Linked DNA regions of Homo sapiens. The protein of the gene in region 3 interacts with the protein of the main gene of each other region in a biochemical or structural test. Each region holds a gene or a part of one and is shown on either strand. Other genes may lie near its edges.

Region 1 (7,024 bases), on a different chromosome or scaffold from region 3:
AAGAGCAACACACAAAAATCAGTTGTACTGCTATACACTAGCCAAAAAACAATATGAAAGTAAATGAAGAGAACAATTTCATTTACAATAGCACCAAAAATAATAAAATAATTAGAAACAAATTTAATTTAAAAGGCACAAGGCCGGGAAGGGTGGCTCACACCTGTTAATCCCAGAACTTTAGGAGGCCAAGGTGGGTGGATTGCTTGAGCTCAGGAATTCAAGTCCAGCTGGGGCAACATGGCAAAACCTAGTCTTTACAAAAAAGGCAAAAAATTAGCCAGGCATGGTGTGCACCTGTACCAGGTATGCACCTGTACTCCCAGCTACTCGGTAGGCTGAGGTGGGAGAATCACCTGAGCCCAGTAAGTTGAGGCTGCAGTGAACCAAGATCGCACCACTGCACTCTAGCATTGAAGACATAGCGGGACCCTGTCTCAACAACAACAAAAAAGGCACAAACACAAGACTTGTATGCTGAAAACTACAAAACATTGCTGGAGTCAATTCATGATGACCTAAATTTTAAATAACCTAAATAAACAAAAAGACATTCTGTGTTCATGGATTAGAAGGGTTAGTATCAAGATGGTAATACATTCCAACGTGGTCTACAAATAAAATGCAATCGCTATCAAAATCCCAATGACAAACCAGGCATGGTGGCTCACGCCTGTAATCCCAGCACTTTGGGAGGCCAAGATGGGTGGATCACCTGAGTTCAAGAGTTCAACACCAGCCTGGCCAACATGGTGAAACCCCATCTCTACTAAAAATACAAAACATTAGCTGACCATGGTGGCAGACGCCTGTAATCCCGGCTATCTGGGAGAATGAGGCAAGAGAACCACTTGAACCCAAGAGGCAGAGGTTGCAGTAAGCCGAGATCGTGCCACTGCACTCCAGCCTGGGAGCAACAGAGAGAGACTCTGTCTCAAAAAACAACAACAACAAAAACAACCCAATGACATCTTTTGCAGAAATGGACATGCTGATTCTAAAATTCGTATGTAATTGCAAGGAAACCTGAATAGGCACAACAATCTTGGAAAAAAAAAAAAAAAAAACAAAGTCGGGGTCAGGCGCAGTGGCTCACACCTGTAATCCCAGCACTTTGGGAGGTCGAGGCAGGTGGATCACAAGGTCAAGAGATCGAGACCATTCTGGCCAATATGGTGAAACCCCATCCCCAGTAAAAATACAAAAATTAGCTGGGCGTGTTGGCACGCACCTGTAATCCCAGCTACTGGGACAGCTGAGGCAGGAGAACCGCTTGAACCTAGGAGACGGAGGCTGCAGTGAGCCAAGATTGCGCCACTGCACTCCAGCAAGGCAACAGAGCGAGACTATGTCTCCAAAAAAAAAAAAAAAAGTTGGAAAAATCACACTTCTGATTTCAAAACTTGCTACAAAACTATAGTAAATGGAACAGCATGGCACTGACATAAGGATCAACACAGAGACAAATACAATAGAATTGATAATCCAGCAATAAGCACTCACATCTATGATCAATTTTCAACAAGGGTACCAAGACCATTCAATAGGAAAAAAGTAATTTCAATAAGTAGTGCTGCCCAGGTGCAGTGGCTCATGCCTGTAATCCCTGCACTTTGGGAGGCCAAGACAGGCAGATAACTTGAGCAGGAGTTCGAGACCAGACTGGCCAACATTGTGAAACCCCATCTCTACTAAAATACAAAAATTAGCCAGGCATGGTGGCGCGCCTGTAACCCCAGCTACTCAGGGGGGCTGAGGCAGGAGAACTGCTTGAATCCAGGAGGCGGAGGTTGCAGTGAGCTGAGACAGCGCCACTGCCCTCCAGCCTGGGCGACAGAGCAAGACTCCATCTCAAAAAACAAACAAACAAAAAAGTACTGATGAGACTTGGCACAGTGGCTCACGCCTGTTATCCCAGCACTGTGGGAGGCCGAGGTGGGCAGATCACGAGGTCAGGAGATCAAGACCATCCTAGCCAACATGGTGAAACCCCATCTCTACTAAAATACAAGAAATTGGCCAGGTGTGGTGGCACACACTGGTAGTCCCAGCTACTCGGGGGGGCTGAGGGAGGGGAATCGCTTGAACCTGCGGGAGGCGGAAGTTGCAGTGAGCCGAGACTGCACCACTGCACTCTAGCCTGGTGACAGAGCAAGACCCGTCTCAAAAAAAAAAAAAAAGTAGTGAGACAATTGGATATTATCCCACAAAACAGCGAAGTTGGATCTTTGCCTCACAGTATATGCGAAAATGGGCCGAGTGCTGTGGCTCATGCCTATAATCCCAATACTTTAGGCAGATCATCTGAGGTCAGGAGTTTGAGACGAGTATGGCCAACAAGTTGAAACCCCATCTCTACTAAAAATACAAAAAAGAGCTGGGCATGGTGGCAGGTACCTGTAATCCCAGCTACTCGGGAGGTTGAGGCAGGAGAATCACTTGAACTCGGAGGGGACGGAGGTTGCAGTCAGCCGAGATTACCCCAATGCACACCGGCCTGGGCAAAAGGAGTGAGACTTTGTCTTAAAAACAAAAAAAAGGCCAAGAAACGCATGAAAGATACTCAACATCAGTCACTAGGAACTGCAAATCAAAACCATAATGAGATATCATTTCTCACCTACTAACATGACTGTAGTTTAAGAAATGAGAAAATATAAGCATTAGCAAGCATGTGAAGAAACTGGAACACATATTGCTTGTAGAAATGTAAAAGGGTGGCCCCGGGCGCGGTGGCTCATGCTTGCAATCTCAGCACTTTGGGAGGCCGAGGCAGGCGGATCGCGAGGTCAGGAGACAGAGACCATCCTGGCTAACATGGTGAAACCCCATCTCTACTAAAAATACAAAAAATTAGCTGGGCGTGGTGGCAGGCACCAGTAGTCCCACCTACTCGGGAGACTGAGGCAGGAGAATGGCGTGAACCCGGGAGGTGGAGCTTGCAGTGAGCCGAGATCGCGCCACTGCACTCCATCCTGGGTGACAGAGCAAGACTCCCTCTCAAAAAAATAAATAAATAAATAAAAGAAATGTAAAAGGGTATAGTAGTTATAAAAAACAGTTTGGGACTCTCTCAAAAAGTTGCAGGTTTTTTTTTTTAAGTCACATGTAGAATTACTATACGACCCAGCAATTTCACTACTAGATATATACCCAAAAGAACTGAAAACAAGGCTGGGTGTGGTGGCTCACACCTCTAATCCCAGCACTTTGGGAGGCCAAGGCGGGCAGATCTCCTGAGGTCGGGAGTTTAAGACCAGCCTGACCAACATGGAGAAACCCCATCTCTACTAAAAATACAAAATTAACCAGGCATGGTGGCACATGCCTGTAATCCTAGCTACTGGGGAGGCTGAGGCAGGAGAACCGCTTGAACTCAGAAGGCAGAGGTTGAAGTGAGCCAAGATTACGCCATTGCACTCCAGCCTGGGCAATGAGCGCAAAACTCCATCTCAGGGGAAAAAAAAAAGGAATTCAAACAAAGACTTATACACAAATGTTCTTGGTAGCATTATTCACAATAGCCAAAAAGTAGAAACAACCCAAAAGTCCATCATCAGATGAAGAGATAAACAAAATGTGGTATATGCATACAATGGAATATTCAGTCATAGAAATGAATGAAGTAGTAACATGCTACAGATGTGGAAAAACCTTGAAAACAATAAGAAAGCAGACACAAAAGGGCACATATTGTATGATTCTATTTATATAAAACATTGAAGGCTGGGCATGGTGGCTCACACCTGTAACCCCAGCACTTTGGGAGGCCAAGGCGGGTGGATCATGAGGTCAACAGTTCGAGACCAGCCTGGCCAACATGGTGAAACCCCCGTCTCTACTGAAAGTACAAAAATTAGCCGGGCGTGGTGGCATGCGCCTGTAGTCCTAGCTACTCAGGAGGCTGAGGCAGAAGCATCGCTTGAACCTGGGAGGCGGAGGTTGCAGTGAGCCAAGATTGCGCCACTGCACTCCAGCCTGGGCGACAGAGCGAGATTCCGTCTCAAAAAAAAAAAAAAAGTTGAAATAGGTAAATCAATATACAGAAAGCTAACTAGTAGTTGCCAAGGACTTGAGGAAAGGGGAAAATGGGCAGTGACTGCTAAATGGGTATGAGGTTTCCTTTTTTTTTTTTTTTTGAGATGGAGTCTCACTCTGTCGCCCAGAGACTGGAGTGCAGTGGCAGGATCTCGGCTCACTGCAAGCTCCGCCTCCCGGGTTCATGCCATTCTCCTGCTTCAGCCTCCCGAGTAGCTGGGACTACAGGCACCGGCCACCACACCCGGCTACTTTTTTGTATTTGTAGTACAGACGGGGTTTCACCGTGTTACCCAGGATGGTCTCAATCTCCTGACCTCGTGATCCACCCGCCTCAGCCTCCCAAAGTGCTGGGATTACAGGTGTGAGCCACCGCGCCCGGCCGAGGTTTCCTTTTAAGGTGATAAAAATATTCTAGAACTAGAAAGAGATAATGGTTGCACAACACTGTGAATCTACAAACGCCACTGATTTGTACACTTCAAAATGGGTAGTCGTTAATTTTATGCTACGTAAATTTACCACAATTTTTTAATGAGAAAAGAAATGATCCAGAAGAGACTGCTTCTTAGATAACTTAAGCAGTTAGCCTACTAGAGCACATAAAGACATGATTTTTTAAAAAACACTACCTCTAATAAAGATTAATTCAAGGGCATTAAAACACTAAAATTTTATATTTTTAAAATTTTTTAATTTTTATTATTTTGTAGAGACAGGGTCTCACTATGTTACCCAGGCTGGTCTCAAATTGCTGGGCTCAAGCAATCCTCTCCACTTGGCCTTCCAAAGTGCTAGGATTGTAGACATGAGCCACCATGCCTGGCCTAAAACACTAAAATTTTAGAGTTCAACTTAGAAACATATACATATATACTTCTGGTATCATTTTCAGAACTTCCAACTAATCTATGCCTGAAGATAATTATAACTTTGGGAATAACCATTTGCCCAAGGAAAATATAAACCTTAGTGAGACCTTGTCTCTATTATTTAAAAAAATAAAAAATAGGCCAGGCGTGGTGGCTCACGCCTGTAATCCCTGCACTTTGGGAGGCCAATGCGGGTGTATCATCTGAGGTCAGGAGCTCGAGACCAGCCTGGCCAACATGATGAAACCCTGTCTCTACTAAAAATACAAAAAATTAGCCGGACGTGGCAGCAGGCGCCTGCAATCCCAGCCACTCGGGAGGCTGAGGCAGGAGAATCGCTTGAACCCGGGAGGCAGAAGTTGCAGTGAGCCGAGATTGCACCACTGCACTCCAGCCTGGGCGACAAGAGCAAAACTCCATCTCAAAAAAAATATTAAGAATAATAAAGAATAAAAAAATATAAAGGCAAGGCGTGGTGGCTCACACTTGTAATCCCAGCACTTTGGAAGGCTGAGGTAGGAGGATCACTTGAGCCCAGGGGTTTGAGACCAGCCTGGGTAACAGTAAGACCTTGTCTTTATTATTTAAATACATAAATAAAGGAAAATATAAACTTGTAACAGACTAAATAAAGGAAAATATAAACTTGTAACAGACTTAACTAATAATAGCAATGTGAATTAACATAGTATCAATGAAAGCAGTCAGCAACTGAGTGTGGTGGCTCACACCTGTAATCCCAGCACTTTGGAAAACCTAGGTGGGCAGATCGCTTGAGCCCAGGAGTTTGAGACCAGCCTGGACAACATGGTGAAATCCTGCCTCTATGAAAAAAATTTAAAAATCAGTAGTAGTAGTACTTACTTCAATGTTCGTTTTTTTGTGTTTGTTTTTTGTTTTGTGAGACGGAATCTCGCTCTGCTGCCCAGGCGGGAGTGCAGGGACACAATCTTGGCTCACTGCAACCTGTAGTCCCAGCTACCTGGGGAGGCTGAAGCAAGAGAACTGCTTGAGCCTAGGAGGTGGAGGCTGCAGTGAGCCATAACTGCACCACTGTACTCCAGCCAGAGCAAAAGTGCGAGACCTTGTCTCAAGGAAAAAAAAAAAAGGCCGGGCACAGTGGCTCACACCTGTAATCTCAGCACTTTAGGAGGCCAAGGCAGGCAGATCACCTGAGGTTGGGAGTTCGAGACCAGCCTGACTAATATGGAGAAACCCTGTCTCTACTAAAAATACAAAATTAGGCCGGGCGCAGTGGCTCACGCCTGTAATCCCAGCACCTTGGGAGGCCGAGGCCGGCAGATCACAAGGTCAGGAGTTCGAGACCACCTGGCCAACATGGTGAAACCGCATCTCTACTAAAAATACCAACAAAATTAGCCAGGCATGGTGGCACACGCCTGTAATCCCAGCTGCTCCGGAGGCTGAGGCAGCAGAATCGCTTGAACCCAGGAGACAGAGGTTGCAGTGAGCCGAGATCGCGCCACTGCACTCCAGCTTGCACAACAAGAGCAAAGAAAACAGTCATCTTCACCTTGTTATGCCCAAGACAATAAGGGTGCATTACTCAAGTTCTTAAGTGAGTTCCTTTAAGTGCTATGAAGAAATGATGGTCTGTCCAATGGTGACACGGTAGTTACCAATTAGTGAATATCTAGTATGGGACAGACATTGAGCTAAGTAATTTACCATACTTACATTATTCTGAATTTTCACAACCATCCTACCCTTTTTCACACATGAGGAAACTAGCTCAGAGAGGTCCCCAAGACCAGCTAGTACTAGGTAGAAAAAAGGTTTCAAGGATTCAAATCCCAACTCTGCTGACATACCTGTGAAGTCTTGGTTATTTAACTTCTCCAAATCTCAATTTCCTTATCTGCAAGATGGAAACAGTTGTTGTGCGGGGTTAAATGACAATATTGTCCCCATGATGGGATAATATAAAGCCTCAAGAAATACTTATGTAAAATTTTCTTATCCTAACAAGCATCTGCTAGGGTATTTAGGGATGACAGGCCTGCAACTTATTTTCAAATGATTCCACAAAATATATATATAGATACCACACACACAAATAGAGAAAATATGGCATAATATTAACAACTGTTTGC
Region 2 (7,839 bases), on a different chromosome or scaffold from region 3:
GTCTGCGTAAAACCCATTTTGTGGCTAACATGGATCTATCTAAAAAATCCAGTTGCATCTCTCCCCTTGGGACTTCCAGGGTGCAGCAGCCACACCAATTTCTTTATTTACCATAATTTGAAAGCCTTATTAATCCTAAAGGCTCAGCTCTATAATCACATTTGGTTAGCTTGAGACTAATCCTTAGAGGTTATTTATTTTTCATGAAGATTGCTTCCCAGCTACTGGTTTATTTAGACTTTACTAATAATTATTTCGCAAGAGCTTTTTTCACCACTGCTCATTTATATGTGTAGAATTCACACTGTGAATATGAACTAAGGATGAATTTTTTTAAGAGTTAAGGTTTAACTGGAATGTCATTTTTTCTTTACTGTGCCAGATCATTCCTTTTCTGGGAAGCTGTCCCGTGAAATAATTAAATATTGTCCCTTTAAAAGAGTCTGTGACCTGCTGCATTTGTAATCCTTGAATTCCATGATTCAGCCCAAGATCTCCCAGCTTTCCATTTCACACTCCTGCTCACATTTGGTTTAGATTTGGCTTTTCTTTGCTCGAGAGGAACAGGATTTATTACTACCAGTCAGAAGCCATCAGTCCCCAATATTTCAGCAAAGAACCCTAGTCTGCCAGAGTGAGTAATGCTCTGTTTGCACTCAAGTCTCCCTGAACCAGTCACCCCAAATAGGATGTCACTGCTTGCATTTATTTAGAAACTGTCAAGTTGTCTATGTGTTTCCTCCCACCAGTTCATGTGATTCCTGAAACACCCCTATGCGCTTTGATGGGAGGGAAAAAAAATAACAGTCCCTCATACATTTATGTAATGCTTATTTATGGAGCACAGTGTATATGTTAGGGACTGAGAGCTGAGTATGTGCTGGCACCCCAGAAGGACATGTCCCTGTTCTCAGGTAGCTTAGAGGTCATTGAGTCCCACCATGAGGCAGGCACACCAGGAAATGGTCTTGATGTCTTCTTTCACTGACTACTCATAATAAACTATGGGAAAGGTCTGATTACCCTTGTTTTGTGGCTGGGATTACCGAAACTCCCAGAGGTTAAGTCATCCTCTGATAAGGGGGAAAGCCAATGCTCAGACCTGGACTTTCTCGGTCCAAGGCTGCTGATTGAATTCTGGATTCTTCCCAAATAGTGTAATCTCGTGTCAACTCAAATCAATTCAAGTTTCCTTTCCAGTTTCCCACATCCCATGGTTTGGCTTAGAAAGAAAGATGGTGCAACACACAACAGATATCAAGCATCTAAGAGTTTGGGAAGGGTTTGTGTGACCAGTGGTGTGGGCAGGGTGTCTTTAGAATGGAAAGTGGATGAGAGGGGAGCTCAAAGAGGTGATCCAGGAATTCCCAAAGGTGGACCTTGACTCAGTAAGTCACCAGGTCTGTTATTTGAAATGAGTCATTTGTGGTATGGGGGCAAATGACCTCAGTCCCTCACCAAACTATCGGGAAGCAAGCAAACAAAATAATCCCCGCTTCTGGGGAGAATAATCCTAATTACAGCCCCTAGAATTTGCATGCCCTTCTACAGTTTGCAAAGCACTTTCACACCTATATTTTCCTTGGTGGAATTGTTTACTGCACTAATGGAGAAGGGACCAGGACTTGATATGGCCTAGTTTGTTGGTTTTTATATATTTTTTAAGAATAATCATCTGTCAAAATGTAATTTCATGCAATAGTCTGGTATATAAAACTGATGCAAGTGGAACTTCTGTGGTTGGGATGGGGCCTGGGGAGGGAGAGGCACAGCTTACTCCTCAGCTTTTACTCTGACCACTAGGTCTGCTTCTGAGGGGTCTCTAAGGAACCTCCAGGTTCCATGAAACACAGTAAGACAGACATTGTTCCTAGTGACTCCCCACGTCACTTCACTTTCTTGCTCCAAGAAAAGGAAGCTGAAATCCCTGGAGGTTGCATGAGGTGAAAAAAGCTGCTCCTTGTCCTGTATTCTTGTGCATGGAACCTACCAGGGCTGGTTTCCTCACATGAGTAGGGACTGAAGCCTTATCTGGGAGCCAGTTTGCCCCCAGTTGTTTCAAGAAATAAAGTGTCCTCTTGGTCACAGACAGCAGCAGTAACAACTTTTTCCTGCGGACTGGCAGCATTTTCCAAGCACCTGCTCTTCAGGTGGGAGTTACGGGTCACTGTCTTCATTCCAGACGGGCGGCTCTTTGAGTCATGGCATGCCAGCTTCTGAGTGGCTGAGGACTAGATCCAGACAAGGATTTTTCAGTCCCAAACACTCTTCCTGAAAATGCAAGAGGAGTAGTCTTTAGTCAAACAGAATCTCCACAACTGAAAAATTTATACCGGACTAGACAGTGGTAGTGGTTGCACAATATTGTTAAAGTACTACACGTCACTGCTATAAACACTTTTAAATGGGTGAAATGGTAAATTTTATGTTATGCATATTTTAACATAACAATGATAATAATTTTAACTAAGTACGTTGCCTCCTTATTTCCTACAGGGTCAAGTTCAAACTCCCTGGCATAGCTTACACCTTGTAGTCCCCATACCTGTAACCTCATGTCTGCTATCTTCCCCCAGCCCCTTCATCTGATCTATGTTCAGATCAGCTCACATTGCTCTCTATTCTCTGGACAAGCCATGTTCTTTCACTTTTCTATGCTCAAACACAATTTTGCTTTTAGTAATGATAGCAAACACTTATTTAAAGTGCTTACTGCATGCATATGTAGACATAAATCTACGGCTTAATACATGCAGGGCTTTTGAGTCATTTAATCCTCACCAATTCTATGAAGTAATAGAATTGTAATAGTAATAATAGATACTATTATTAAGCCCATTTTATACTTGAGCAAATTGAGCTAATTGCCTTAGGCAAGGTCACACAACTAAGAAGCAGCCATAATAGGGTTTGGATCTAGGTGTTCTAGCTCCTGAATCCATGCTGTTCGTCACTACACTGTACTGCCTGTGGATGACTTACTTGTCCCTGTAGTTTCATCTGAAGAATTCCTCCTCCTTTTCCTTTGAGGCCTGCCTCAAATATCACTTCCCCTGTGAAGACTGCCTGGTGTTCTCCAGGAGAGAGTGTGACTCCCTTCTCTAGGAATGGTAGCACCCCAAACACACACATTTTGCAGCATATTTCACCTTGCATGGTAATGGCCTGCTTGTGAGTTTTATTCCGTACCAGAGGGTGAGGGCTCTGAAGATAGCGCCAGGTCTTATTTACCTCGATACCCCACAACACTCATTACATGTCTGATGAATGAATGCATAGGGGGATGGCTGGGTGCATTTCTCTCAACTTTTCAATTTCTTGAAATAAATAACAAAATCTTACCTTCCCTCAGAAGTCCTGGCATGGTTCCTTTCATCTTGCCACAGCCACTGATAATCACTTTCATTTTCTGTGTAACTCACCAGGCAAGAAGTCCATGCAGATTTACTTTTAGTAGTTCACATGACAAATAAATACTGCGTTTGATTTCCAAACATTAAACCATAGTATATTATAGATAGATATAGAGTTATCATTCAAAGTATGATATTTCAATCTCAAAAGGCTTCCCCTGAAGAATATTACAAACTCTTCCTCTCTTTAAGATCTGCTGGGTAGGAAAGATGGGAGAAAATGAATTAATGTTTACACAGAAAGGAGGATAATGGGGGCAAAAATAATAGATGAACGTATGGGTGGATGAGAGAATGGATAAAATGATAGGTGGATATGTTGATCTTGGACAGATGGGAAATGAGTGGATATATCAATAAACAGATATGTGGGTGGATGGGTGGAGAAGAGGATGGTGGATGGTTGTGGTTTTATGAAGAGATGTGAAAAAGGAAGTGTGGAATGATGGATGAGAAGTTGTATGGGAAGATGAATAGAAGAATAGGTGGTTGAATAAATTAAAAGGTGTGTGGTTGGATGAATGAATGAGTGGGATGATAGATGGACCTAAGTGGTTAGTGGATGGACAGGAGGATGGATGGATGTGAGAGCCCCAGAAGGACATAAGGAAAGATGGGTGGATAGATGGATGGGCGGATGGAAGGATATTTAGGAGGATGAATGAGCATGTGTGTGGAGAGAGGTGCCCATTCACACTGGCTTGAACACATGGGTTAGCTGAGCCAAATGCCAGCCCTATGACAGGCCATCAGTAGCTTTCCCTGAGCTGTTCTGCCAAGAAGCTAAAATTCATTCAAGCCATGTGGACTTGTTATTGAGGGGAAAAAGAATGAGCTCTCCCTCTTTCCACTTGGAAGATTCACCAACTCCCCACCCCTCACTCCCCACTGTGGGCACGGAGGCACTGCGCCACCCAGGGCAAGACCTCGCCCTCTCTCCAGCTCCTCTCCCAGGATATCCAACATCCTGTGAAACCCAGAGATCTTGCTCCAGCCGGATTCAGAGAAATTTAGCGGGAAAGGAGAGGCCAAAGGCTGAACCCAATGGTGCAAGGTTTTACGGTTCGGTCATCCTCTGTCCTGACGCCGCGGGGCCAGCGGGAGAAGAAAGCCAGTGCGTCTCTGGGCGCAGGGGCCAGTGGGGCTCGGAGGCACAGGCACCCCGCGACACTCCAGGTTCCCCGACCCACGTCCCTGGCAGCCCCGATTATTTACAGCCTCAGCAGAGCACGGGGCGGGGGCAGAGGGGCCCGCCCGGGAGGGCTGCTACTTCTTAAAACCTCTGCGGGCTGCTTAGTCACAGCCCCCCTTGCTTGGGTGTGTCCTTCGCTCGCTCCCTCCCTCCGTCTTAGGTCACTGTTTTCAACCTCGAATAAAAACTGCAGCCAACTTCCGAGGCAGCCTCATTGCCCAGCGGACCCCAGCCTCTGCCAGGTTCGGTCCGCCATCCTCGTCCCGTCCTCCGCCGGCCCCTGCCCCGCGCCCAGGGATCCTCCAGCTCCTTTCGCCCGCGCCCTCCGTTCGCTCCGGACACCATGGACAAGTTTTGGTGGCACGCAGCCTGGGGACTCTGCCTCGTGCCGCTGAGCCTGGCGCAGATCGGTGAGTGCCCGCCGCAGCCTGGGCAGCAAGATGGGTGCGGGGTGCTCAGCGCGGACCCGGCGGCAGCCCCTCCGGCTGAGTCGGCCCTGGGGGACTGGAGTCAAGTGAGCTGTCTGCGAAGTGCATTGGGCTCCGGAAAGCAGGGCTGGGATTTGCGCTAAACCGTTGGAGAATGTGTCTGTGGAAGCACCATTTGGTTGAAAGAAAAAGAGAAAGAGAAGAAAGTTTGTTGGGCAGGCTGCCGGCGCGCAGTTTTGGGCGAGGTCGCTAGAGCTGCAGCACATGGCAGAAAGTAACCGTTCTCCCGGATGCGCACAGTCGTTGTCTGGACTAACAGGCTCCTGTGCCCAAGGGCTCGCCAAGCCCCACCGGGCTGTGTCTAGGCAGGGCAGAGCTGGGCGGGGCAGAGACTGGGGCTGGAACAGGGCGAGTGGCTGTTATCAAGGTGGTCACAGAAGGGATCACAATTCCAAGTGTGAGACTAGCTGGCAATGGGTTTTCCAGAAAGGGGTCCTGGGTTCTCCCAGCTCCCCACTGAGCCTTGTTCCAAAGCTTACAGTCCGCAGTGTCACTGCCACCTTAGCGCTGTGGAAGCTTGAACCAGCTCTGCGGTGAGGTCTTGGGTCTCCATGAGATTCCAGCCTGGGATAGGGAGCATGAATATGAGAGGCAACCACTGGACCAGCTGCTTGGTCCTCACCACCTCCTGCTTCTGCCAATCAGTGTGGGGAAATCTCAACAGTAAGGTGGCTTATATTCCCTGCCTGGCAGCCTCAGAGCAGAGAGAAGAGCCTTGATACCAGGGCAACATCAGGGACCCTGGAGCTAGGGCTCCAATATCTCATCCAAACAGGGTCAGTGCTTTGTGGTGGCTATGGAGGGGAGGGGCTGCGTGTAAGGTATATTCTAGCACGGCTCAACTCCAAGCATTCTCTTTCTTTGTCTATGTATGTACAGATAATTACATGGCCGATTTGCTTATCGCTGGCCAAAATTAATCTTTCTTTTAAGAAGTGCCAGCTGGGTCATTAAGACAGCTCAGCCTGCATGCAGTAAATTCTACTCAGCAAATATTTATTAACCCAGTTCCACGGGAGTACTGAGAAATTGAAACACACAGTCTCACCCAGGTAGTTTAGATTGAGTACCCAGTATAAAGTATCTTGAATTACTTTCTGCTTTCTCTATCTTCCTACTTTCTGCAGTAGGAAGAAAGTGACCCTAGGTGGAGGCTAGGCAGGATGAGTTCTCTGTGCATATGCATCTCCCTTTCTGTGTGAGTGAGAGGTCTTTGCTAGGTGGGGATTTGGGGATCTAGGATTTATACTACTGAAGCTGAAATAATAATAATAATGATAGCAACAACACAGCCTGTCATGGTGGCCCATGCCTGTAATCCTAGGACTTTGGGAGGCTGAGGCAGCAAATTACCCAAGGTCAGGAGTTTGAGACCAGCCTTGGCCAACATGGTGAAACCCCATCTTTACAAAAAATACAAAAATTAGCAGGGTGTGGTGGTGCACACCTGTAGTCCCAGCTGCTTGGGACGCTGAGGCAGGAGAATTGCTTGAACCTAGGAGGTGAAGGTTGCAGTGAACCAAGATTATGCCATTGCACTCCAGCCTGGGTGACAAAGCGTGACTCTGTTAAAAAAAAAAAAATGAATACAGTGCTAGCTACCATTTACTGTATATTTTCACTGTGCCAGGCATTATGTTAAATATTTTCCATGTGTTATCTCATTCTACCCTCACAATGGCCTAGTAAGAAGCTTCCTGTTATCAGGCCTGTTTGACAGGAGGAAAACTGATGCTTAGAGACGTTAAGTGACTTGCTGGCATTCACATAGCCAGGAGCAGTGCTGGATGGAAACCCAGCTCCACTGAGCTCCAAAGCCTAGGCTTAGAATATGTTAGACTGTATAAGATGGACGAACTTGGAAGGATTTCAGGGAGGGAAGGATTTTGGTGGACTCTAGGCCTTAGGGAAAGTTCCAAAAGGGACTGGAGCTCAAATAAGCCCTTGAAAAGTGGAAACATTCAGGATGGGAGAGAAGAGTCAAGCTGGAGATCAGGGAGAGCCCTGGGCCTGGCCTGAAAGAAGAGGGCCCTGGTGGTTTCCCTATAGTCTCTAGGGAAGTTTATTTGTATGTTACCTACCAGTGCCATCTTCTGCTTTGTCTTTGGGCATTCTGACTCCTGACTCCTTCCAACCTGTCTCCCCGTTCCTTCTAAAAGGCCCCACTTCCAAATATTTGGCACTGTCCTAACCCTTGAGGTTCTCCCAGAGACCCGCAGTCTCCCTCCTGCCCCGTGTTTCCACGGCCCCTTTGCGCAGCATCATTTAGAGGAAGTACAATGAAGTGCCAGTAGCAATAACTGCCCCGGCCCTCGCTTTCATGTGCTTGTAAAGTTGTTTGGCAGGAACTGGGACTTGGAAAGGAGACATGACTTTGTCAGAGGGCTTGGGGCTGGGCATGGTGTGGGTGGCGAAGGGGAGAAGGAGGAAAGGGGAAGGAAAGGAGCTCTTGTTGCCCCATTCTGGGGAGTGGTGGACTCTGGACAACCACGAGGAAACTTTGGAAAGGAGCAAGGCTTTGAGGAGGAGTCCAGTCTTTGTATGGGAAAGCAAAAAGTGGAGAAATGGCCAAATGTAGTTAAGTGACATTGGACCCAGAAACTCTGAGTTGGGGAACAGATATCTTGAATTCGGGGTCTTGTGCAGGAGGAAGAAAGTGGCCCTTGGTGGAGGCCAGGGGGGATGAGTCCTTCATGCACATGCATCTCCTTGTCTCTGTGGGTGAGGGGATCTTTTTTTTTAATTA
Region 3 (7,024 bases):
TATCAGACCCTGTGCTCTGGGTTTGCTTTATTTGAAAAGAAAAGGGATGTGTGCAGAAAGGGAAAGCTCTAAAGGAAAATGAGCCAGCACAAGCAACCCTTTTGCCCCACTACCAGAAGCTGCCAGGTGTGACCATGGGTCTTGAGAGGCTGTCAACGCATAAAAGGTCTTGATCTTGAGTTAAACACACCAGTCTCCAAAGTGCCCAGATTGACCCCATTTCCATGCTAGGAGTATGCCACCAAGACAAAGGACTTTTAGACACACCTGACTGGACAAGAAGCCATAACCTTCCCCAGCCCAACAATGACCCGAGATGGGAAGAATGGCTGGTCCTACAGCCCCATGACATGCTCTTCGGAACGAGGCAGTCTTCTGGGGCCCTGGAGGCTGGTCTGGCTTCACAGGGTGGGTGCCTACTTTTAGACTCAAAGCATGCTGCGGCCAGTACCCAGGCACCACCTGCCCTCGTAAGGGCTCAGTGTGGCCCGAGGACAGAGACAGGCAAGCTCATGCACGGGTTAGTATCACAGAGGGCAGCACCATCACCACATAGAGAGTACCTGGGAACAACCTACTTTGAGGGCTCAAATGCAGATAGGTCTTCTGCCTTGGGCTTGAGGCTAAACCAGCAAAATAAAATGAAGAAAAACAAAAACATACCCTGTGATATCAACAATGCCATAAGTGCCATCTGCAAAATGCTTGGATAGGCCTGAAATCGTGATGAGTGATTTTGTTTGTTTTAATGGCTTGGAACGGGGTCTCTCCAGCTCTCACACTGCAGGTTTCTGTGGCTGAGGGCACTGCTCATTGCAGCAGCAGTGGAAATGGTGAGACTGTTCCTGGGACCCAGATGACAAGGCTGGGGGTAAGGGGTGAGATGGGGTGTCTGAGGCAGTTCATTTAAGGGCTGACTGGCTCACTGGCTCAGCCATCGTTTTACCTCTTTCCTTAATGACCGAGGCCTCCCTTGAACTCCCCTTTACTGTTTAATAATTTTGTTTTGGAAGGGAAGCCCAGTAAATTACAGAAGCCAGAGGAAAGAAGAATGTGGAATGTGGAAATGCCTTTCCTTCTAGGTTGCACTATTAAAAGGAATTCTCTACCCGGTGCCAGTTGTGACTGGAGTCGAGAGGTAGAAGTCAGGGCTGCCTACTGTACCCAACAACGAAGGCAGGCAGAAACAGATCCCCTGGAGTTTTCAGATACAGCTTAACCACTAAAAACAGAGACAGTCCATAAAACTGGAAGCCTATTTTAAAGACTGAGGTAAAGAATAAAAAATTAACTGTATCAGTATCACCTAAACTCAATGGACAGTCTTATCTTAATAACACCTATTTTATAGGTGTTAACCTGGTCCTGGGCTATCAGTTAAGAGCAGAGCATTATTTGGTATGAGAGGACCCTTCTGCTTGGCCCAAATGAGAGAGGTATGCTCTTGGGCTGATAATTAGTATGGAATTTAGCTTCTGAATCTCGACAATGCTGAAAGCTCAAAATACCAGTAGAGAAAGATATGAAACCATTTGCAAAGTAATAAAGTCTTCTCTTTTAAAACAAAGAGGTTCTTTCCTAGACACTTCCTTTTAAGTATGAAAAAAGTTAAAAATTCAGTTTGGTTTTATAGTCCTTGCCACTTAAAGACACCACAAGACTAGAGGGAAAGTCCATTCTCAATAGCCTCCATTTCATTCTGCTTTCTCATAAAGTAAGGCAGCTCCCTGGGTATAACACCCCTTGGCTTAAAAGGGCATTATGCTTTACTGCTAAATGAGGGCTCAAAATCCACCCTGTAACAGGGGTTCATTACATCAGAGCTTTTAACACAAGCTCAACTTCCATCCAGCCAATGGGTTCATAGTCATTGGCAGATTAAATTCCCTTTCTGGCATAAGTTAAAAAATTTCCTCAACTAAGTACATACAAAAGATGCCAATAGTCTAGTGACTTGGCTACTGAGGAAACCAGATGCCAACCGCACATTTCATTAATGATGGTCCTGATCAGCAAAATACAAGAAAGAGACCCTGGGTACCTTTTTAATGGTATTGTGCTTGCTGCTGCCACCCCTGTCGGAGTTCTCATTGTGCAGAATATCCAGAGCTGTCTCCCTCTCTTTCAGTTTCAAGGCCTCGATTTCTGTCTTGAGTTCATTGAGCTGCTCCTGCAGATGCTTGCTCTTTTCCATGTATTCCACTCTGCCGGCAAGAGGGTATCATGCATCAGGGCTTGGGCAGACAGTGAGACACGGCTCAGGTGCTCTGCGGCCCACAAGCTGCTTGGTGTGCGATCTAGGGTTTGAGGCCTGGGGTTCACGTCTCTACTTGGCCACTCACAGGCCATGGGAGCTTGGGCTGGTCACTTAAATGCTATGAATGTTTCCTCATCATTAAAATTGGGATAATGATCACAGGGCCGTGGTTAGGATTAAATAAAACAGTGTAGGAGGCCAGGCACGGTGGCTCCACCTGTAATCCCAGTACTTTGGGTGGCTGAGGCAGGAGGATTGCTTGAGCCCAGGAGTTGGAGACCAGCTTGGGAAACATAGCAAGACCCTGTCTCTATTTTTAAAAAAAAAAAAAGAAAAGGAAAGAAAAAGAAAGAGTAGAAAAGCCCTTGGTAAATTCTCATAGGGGGCTCTACAAATACCAGCTCTCATGGACAGCTTTTCGTTCTGTACAAAAAAAAAACATACGTGAAACAAGCTTCCTGGGAACCCAGAACAATCTCCTTGTCTCAACCCTTCTTGGAGCAGTAATTCAAGTAAACTCTTTTTTTTTTTTATAGGATCTTGCTATGCTGCCCAGGCTGGCTTTGAACCCCTGGTCTCAAAGGGCTGGGATTATAGGCATAAGCCACAGCGCCCAGCTTCACGTGATCTCTTTTGATAGGCCACATCCACATTCCCACTTGTTCTGAGACTTCATCTAAAGATGACAGAAGCTCACTCAGAAGCTCACCCAACGCAAGGAAGAAAAGATCCCCACCCTCACCTGAGAACAGATAACACTGAGTGACAGCATCTATGATGGTGAAAATCTGGAAACCACCCACAAAGTGTCCAACTACAAGGCATGGCCAGAAAAACCATGCAATACAAATACCAAAAACACTCCATAGGGATTGCCATGGTTAGTATAGAGACTCTGCCAATATGTGCAAGGGTAAGAAGTGCTATGGTCTGAATGTTCGTGTCTTCAAAATTCATATGTGGAAACCTAATCACCGGCTGGGTGTGGTGGCTCACGCCTGTAATCCCAACACTTTGGGAGGCCAAGGTGGGCGGATCATGAGGTCAGGAGTTCGAGACCAGCCTGACCAACATGGTGAAACCCCATCTCTACTAAAAATACAAAAGTTAGCTGGGCGTGATAGCATGCGCCTGTAATCCCAGCTACTCAGGAGGCTGAGGCAGGAGAATCGCTTGCACCCAGGAGGTGGAGGTTACAGTGAGCCGAGATCGCACCACTGCACTCCAGCCTGGGCGATGGAGTGAGACTCCATCTCAAAAAAAAAAAAAGTGTCAGGAGGTGGGGCCTTTGGGCAGTCATGAGGGTAGAGCCTCATGAATGGGATTAGTGCCCTTATAAAAGAGACTCCAGAGAGACCCCTCATCCCTTCCACTGGGTGAGCATGCAGCAAAAAGGGGCTGATTATGAACCAGCAAGAATGCCCTCACTAGACTCCACCTCTGCCCGTGCCTTGATCTTGGCCTTCTCAGCCTCCCAAACTGTGAGAAATCAATTTCTTTCTTTTCTTTTTTTTTTTTTTGAGACAGGGTGTCTCTCTGTTGCCCAGGCTGGAGTGCAGTGGTGCAATCTGGGCTCACTGCAACCTCTGCCTCCCAGGCTCAAGCAATCCTCCCACCTCAGCCTCCCGAGTAGCTGGGACCACAGGCATGTGCCACCACACCCAGCTAATTTTTGTATTCTTAGTAGAAATGGGGTTTTGCCATGTTGCCCAGGCTGGTCTTGAACTCCTGGCTCAAGAGATCTGCCCCCCTTGGACTCCCAAAGTGCTGGAATTACAGGCATGAGCCACTGTGCCTGGCCAAGAAATAAATTTCTGTTGTTTATAAGCTACCCAGCCTCTGGTATTTTGTTACAGTAGCCAAAACAAACTAAGATAGTAACAAAATACAAACTATAAAATAGCAGACACAGAACAGCTTCACCCTGATCCCGGATCCCAACCACATAAATGTATATGTCTGGATAATGGTGAAAGGAACATGGACAGCAGATATGACAGCTAGAGGCTCTGGTTCATTGGCTACTTAGCTATACCCTCAGTGTGAGAGCCCAAAGAAAAACAGCCTGGGTTCTGGTTGCCCATACTGGACTCCATGGAGACACTTTCCCCAAAGGGTTTTCCTGAGGATACCACCCATGGTAAAAGCACATGGGCTGCAGAGTCAGATGGGTGAGGGGTTTCAACCCCTCTGCATCAGCTGTGGGATGCTGGTGGAGTTCACTAAACTCTCTAAATCTGAGTTCTCACTTATAAAATGGGAACATGAAAACCTACCTTTGATGTCATTTTGATGTTTGTAAGTTAGCAGGAATTAAATGAGACAAAAGCCAAAACCCCTGACACACAGGCACTCAATGCATGGTAGCTACTGTGGTTGTCCTCTAGCAAGCAGCAGCAGTTAACCAACTTACCGCTAGCTCTGGGAACTAGGGGCCCTCGCTTAGATTTCCTCTGCAGTGGGGATCCTTTCCTTTCCATCTCTGATCCACTTCTACCCACAATAAAGGGAAGACGGAGGGCAGCTCAGCAATTGCTGCCATGATCAGGCCATGCTGGGGCCCTGCCCAGTGCCACCCACTGCAGCAAAGTGGCCCCACCAGCTGTCAGCTTTCCTTAGCCTCGAGCCTGAGTCTCTTCTCTCACCTTTGTTTGTTCTAGACATGGGAACCACCACAGATCCCAGTTGCTGGAGAACACAACTAGGAGGTGACTACAGTCCAGTAGTATAACAGCAGTTGAACTGACTCAGAGATGCTAACAACCCAGTCCTACACTTTAGGTGAGGCTTAGAGCCACCAAAAACTCCAGCTCACCAGTCAAGTGTTATTTTTATCCTGGATAAAAATTGTTATTTTTATTCGTTCAGAATGAATGCTGATCTGTTGTCCTTAATTTCTGATTAAGGAAATTCTTCCTCCAGGGTGTAAGAGCAGAGCAAACCTTTGCAGGAGTAATGACAGGCTGCTGCAGCGACCTCTCACCTCTGCCCCAGCTTCCCAAGGCCCCAATCACTCAGTCTAGTTCACAGCTGCCCACAGCAGGGCACAGGGGGCTACATACTTTTCTTTCTCTATCTCCATGGAAAGCCGCTTCATGTCAGTATCTTTGAAGTCGAAAGACAGGCTGTCACCAATGAGGTTGAAGCTTGGTATGTCAGGAGGCAACGGTGCTGGAATTGGGTTCATGGGCTGTTAATGAGAAATTTCGGATTAGGAGCTTGGGTCATACAAGCACAGAAGGACACTACTGTGTTGACAACCGATCCTCCAGCAGCCACAGAGGCAATGGGCACAACTCGGGTCCCACCTCCCAATGCCACCACGAGTCCCCATCCCTCCACTTCACTCCCTCCACATTTGCCACTGCCAGGTAAACAATATCAAAGACTACAAATCCAGGAAAATCATCCCTCAAATCTCTAACCGTTCTTCATGCTCAGCTGAATCAAACACAAACTCCCACTCGCTTTTTCATTTAGGAAACTCCCAGGCCCTGTGCAAGGGGCTGGAGATGCAGAAAACAAGACAGCATCCTTGGCTTTGAGCAGCTGAAAGTCTTGTTCAGGAAATAGATGTGTTCACAGATCATCACTGTTAAAAAAGGTAAACACTGTAGCCAGGGAGCGAACAGAGGCTAGAAGAGATGCTGCTTTTGCTGGGATCCAAGGCAGTGCCAGGAGAAGGTCTGCCGGACGGGAAGTATGGCAATGGGTGGGGCAGTGCCCAGTGAGGGTGCCAGGAGTCTGCCATGCAGTGTGGAGAGGTGGGGTGGGAGATGGGCACCACCACAAAGGGCTCCCCACCGGCCCACCGAGGGGCTTGGGCTTGGACAATGGAACCGGAGTAGGGCCTGAAGCAGGGGTGGTGTAGTTTTTTTTTTTTTTGGACTTTCATCCCAGCACAAAGGGTCATCTAAAGAGGACCCCAATCTAGCTTCCCGGCTTCTCCTACTATTTGCCCTACTAAGTCACAGACAGTATTGTTTATTATCCCCTGGACTACTGCCTTCCCATCTCTGTACCCCTGCCTATCCCATTTCTCCTCCCTATGCTCCATCCCTCTTTCAAGGCCCTTCTCAAACACCACGATCTCTCACCAAAGCCTTTCTAGCCCCTCCCAGCCAGCCGGCAACCCTTTTCTTTGCTGTCCCTTAACGCTGTGTTTACGGTTCTCTAATGGTTCTTCTGCGATTCCACCCTGTAAAAGATTTCTTTTTGGCTGTATCTTCTTTCTACTATTTGCAAGTTTCCTGCAAACAATCTGCCTCTTTTTCATCCTTGGATCCCGTATTGAGTCTAGGACAGTGTCTGGGAAAGAGCAGAGGCTTGGAACATTCATTTGAGACATTCTCAAGGCCTGAGGCAGACCGTCTGCAAGGGTGCTGAGAGAAGGCTCCTTGGGTGCCAGGGATGTCCTGTTTTCTGATCTGGGTGCTGGGTACATGGGTATGTTCAGTTTGTGAAAATTCTTCAAACTGTACAGTTGTAATTTGGGCACTTCTCTATGTGTATGTTACACATCATAAAAATTTTCAGCAAAAACGCGTACTAGTTGCTGCACCACTAGTGAGAGCATGAACTGGTATGACTTCTTTGGAGAGTATCAAAATCGAAAATTTGACCCCACAGTTCTATTATAAGAATTTATTCTACCAATATATCCACGTGTGTGTGTCAAGATTTGTGTTCAGGGATGTTCAGTGTCATTTTGTTCAAAATTGCAAAAGAAAACAGACTAAATACTCATCCATGAGGGACTGGTTAAAT

What was found.
Region 1: the proteins of NF2 (region 3) and DCAF1 form a complex in vitro, tested with the Homo sapiens proteins (3 studies listed by BioGRID, with this or other methods).
Region 2: the proteins of NF2 (region 3) and CD44 form a complex in vitro, tested with the Homo sapiens proteins (2 studies listed by BioGRID, with this or other methods).

Annotation. Positions count from the first base shown.
Region 1 is NC_000003.12:51,489,992-51,497,015, forward strand, and holds part of DCAF1 (DDB1- and CUL4-associated factor 1), read right to left. Parts: intron 6,790-7,024; 5' UTR 6,743-6,789; intron 2,523-6,742; exon of another isoform or gene 2,398-2,522; intron 1-2,397. UniProt on the Homo sapiens protein: Acts both as a substrate recognition component of E3 ubiquitin-protein ligase complexes and as an atypical serine/threonine-protein kinase, playing key roles in various processes such as cell cycle, telomerase regulation and histone modification.
Region 2 is NC_000011.10:35,134,356-35,142,194, forward strand, and holds the start of CD44 (CD44 antigen isoform 1 precursor), read left to right. Parts: upstream 1-4,815; 5' UTR 4,816-4,948; coding exon 4,949-5,015; intron 5,016-7,839. UniProt on the Homo sapiens protein: Cell-surface receptor that plays a role in cell-cell interactions, cell adhesion and migration, helping them to sense and respond to changes in the tissue microenvironment.
Region 3 is NC_000022.11:29,676,619-29,683,642, reverse strand, and holds part of NF2 (merlin), read right to left. Parts: intron 5,448-7,024; coding exon 5,320-5,447; intron 2,205-5,319; coding exon 2,042-2,204; intron 624-2,041; coding exon of another isoform or gene 588-623; exon of another isoform or gene 1-587. UniProt on the Homo sapiens protein: Probable regulator of the Hippo/SWH (Sav/Wts/Hpo) signaling pathway, a signaling pathway that plays a pivotal role in tumor suppression by restricting proliferation and promoting apoptosis.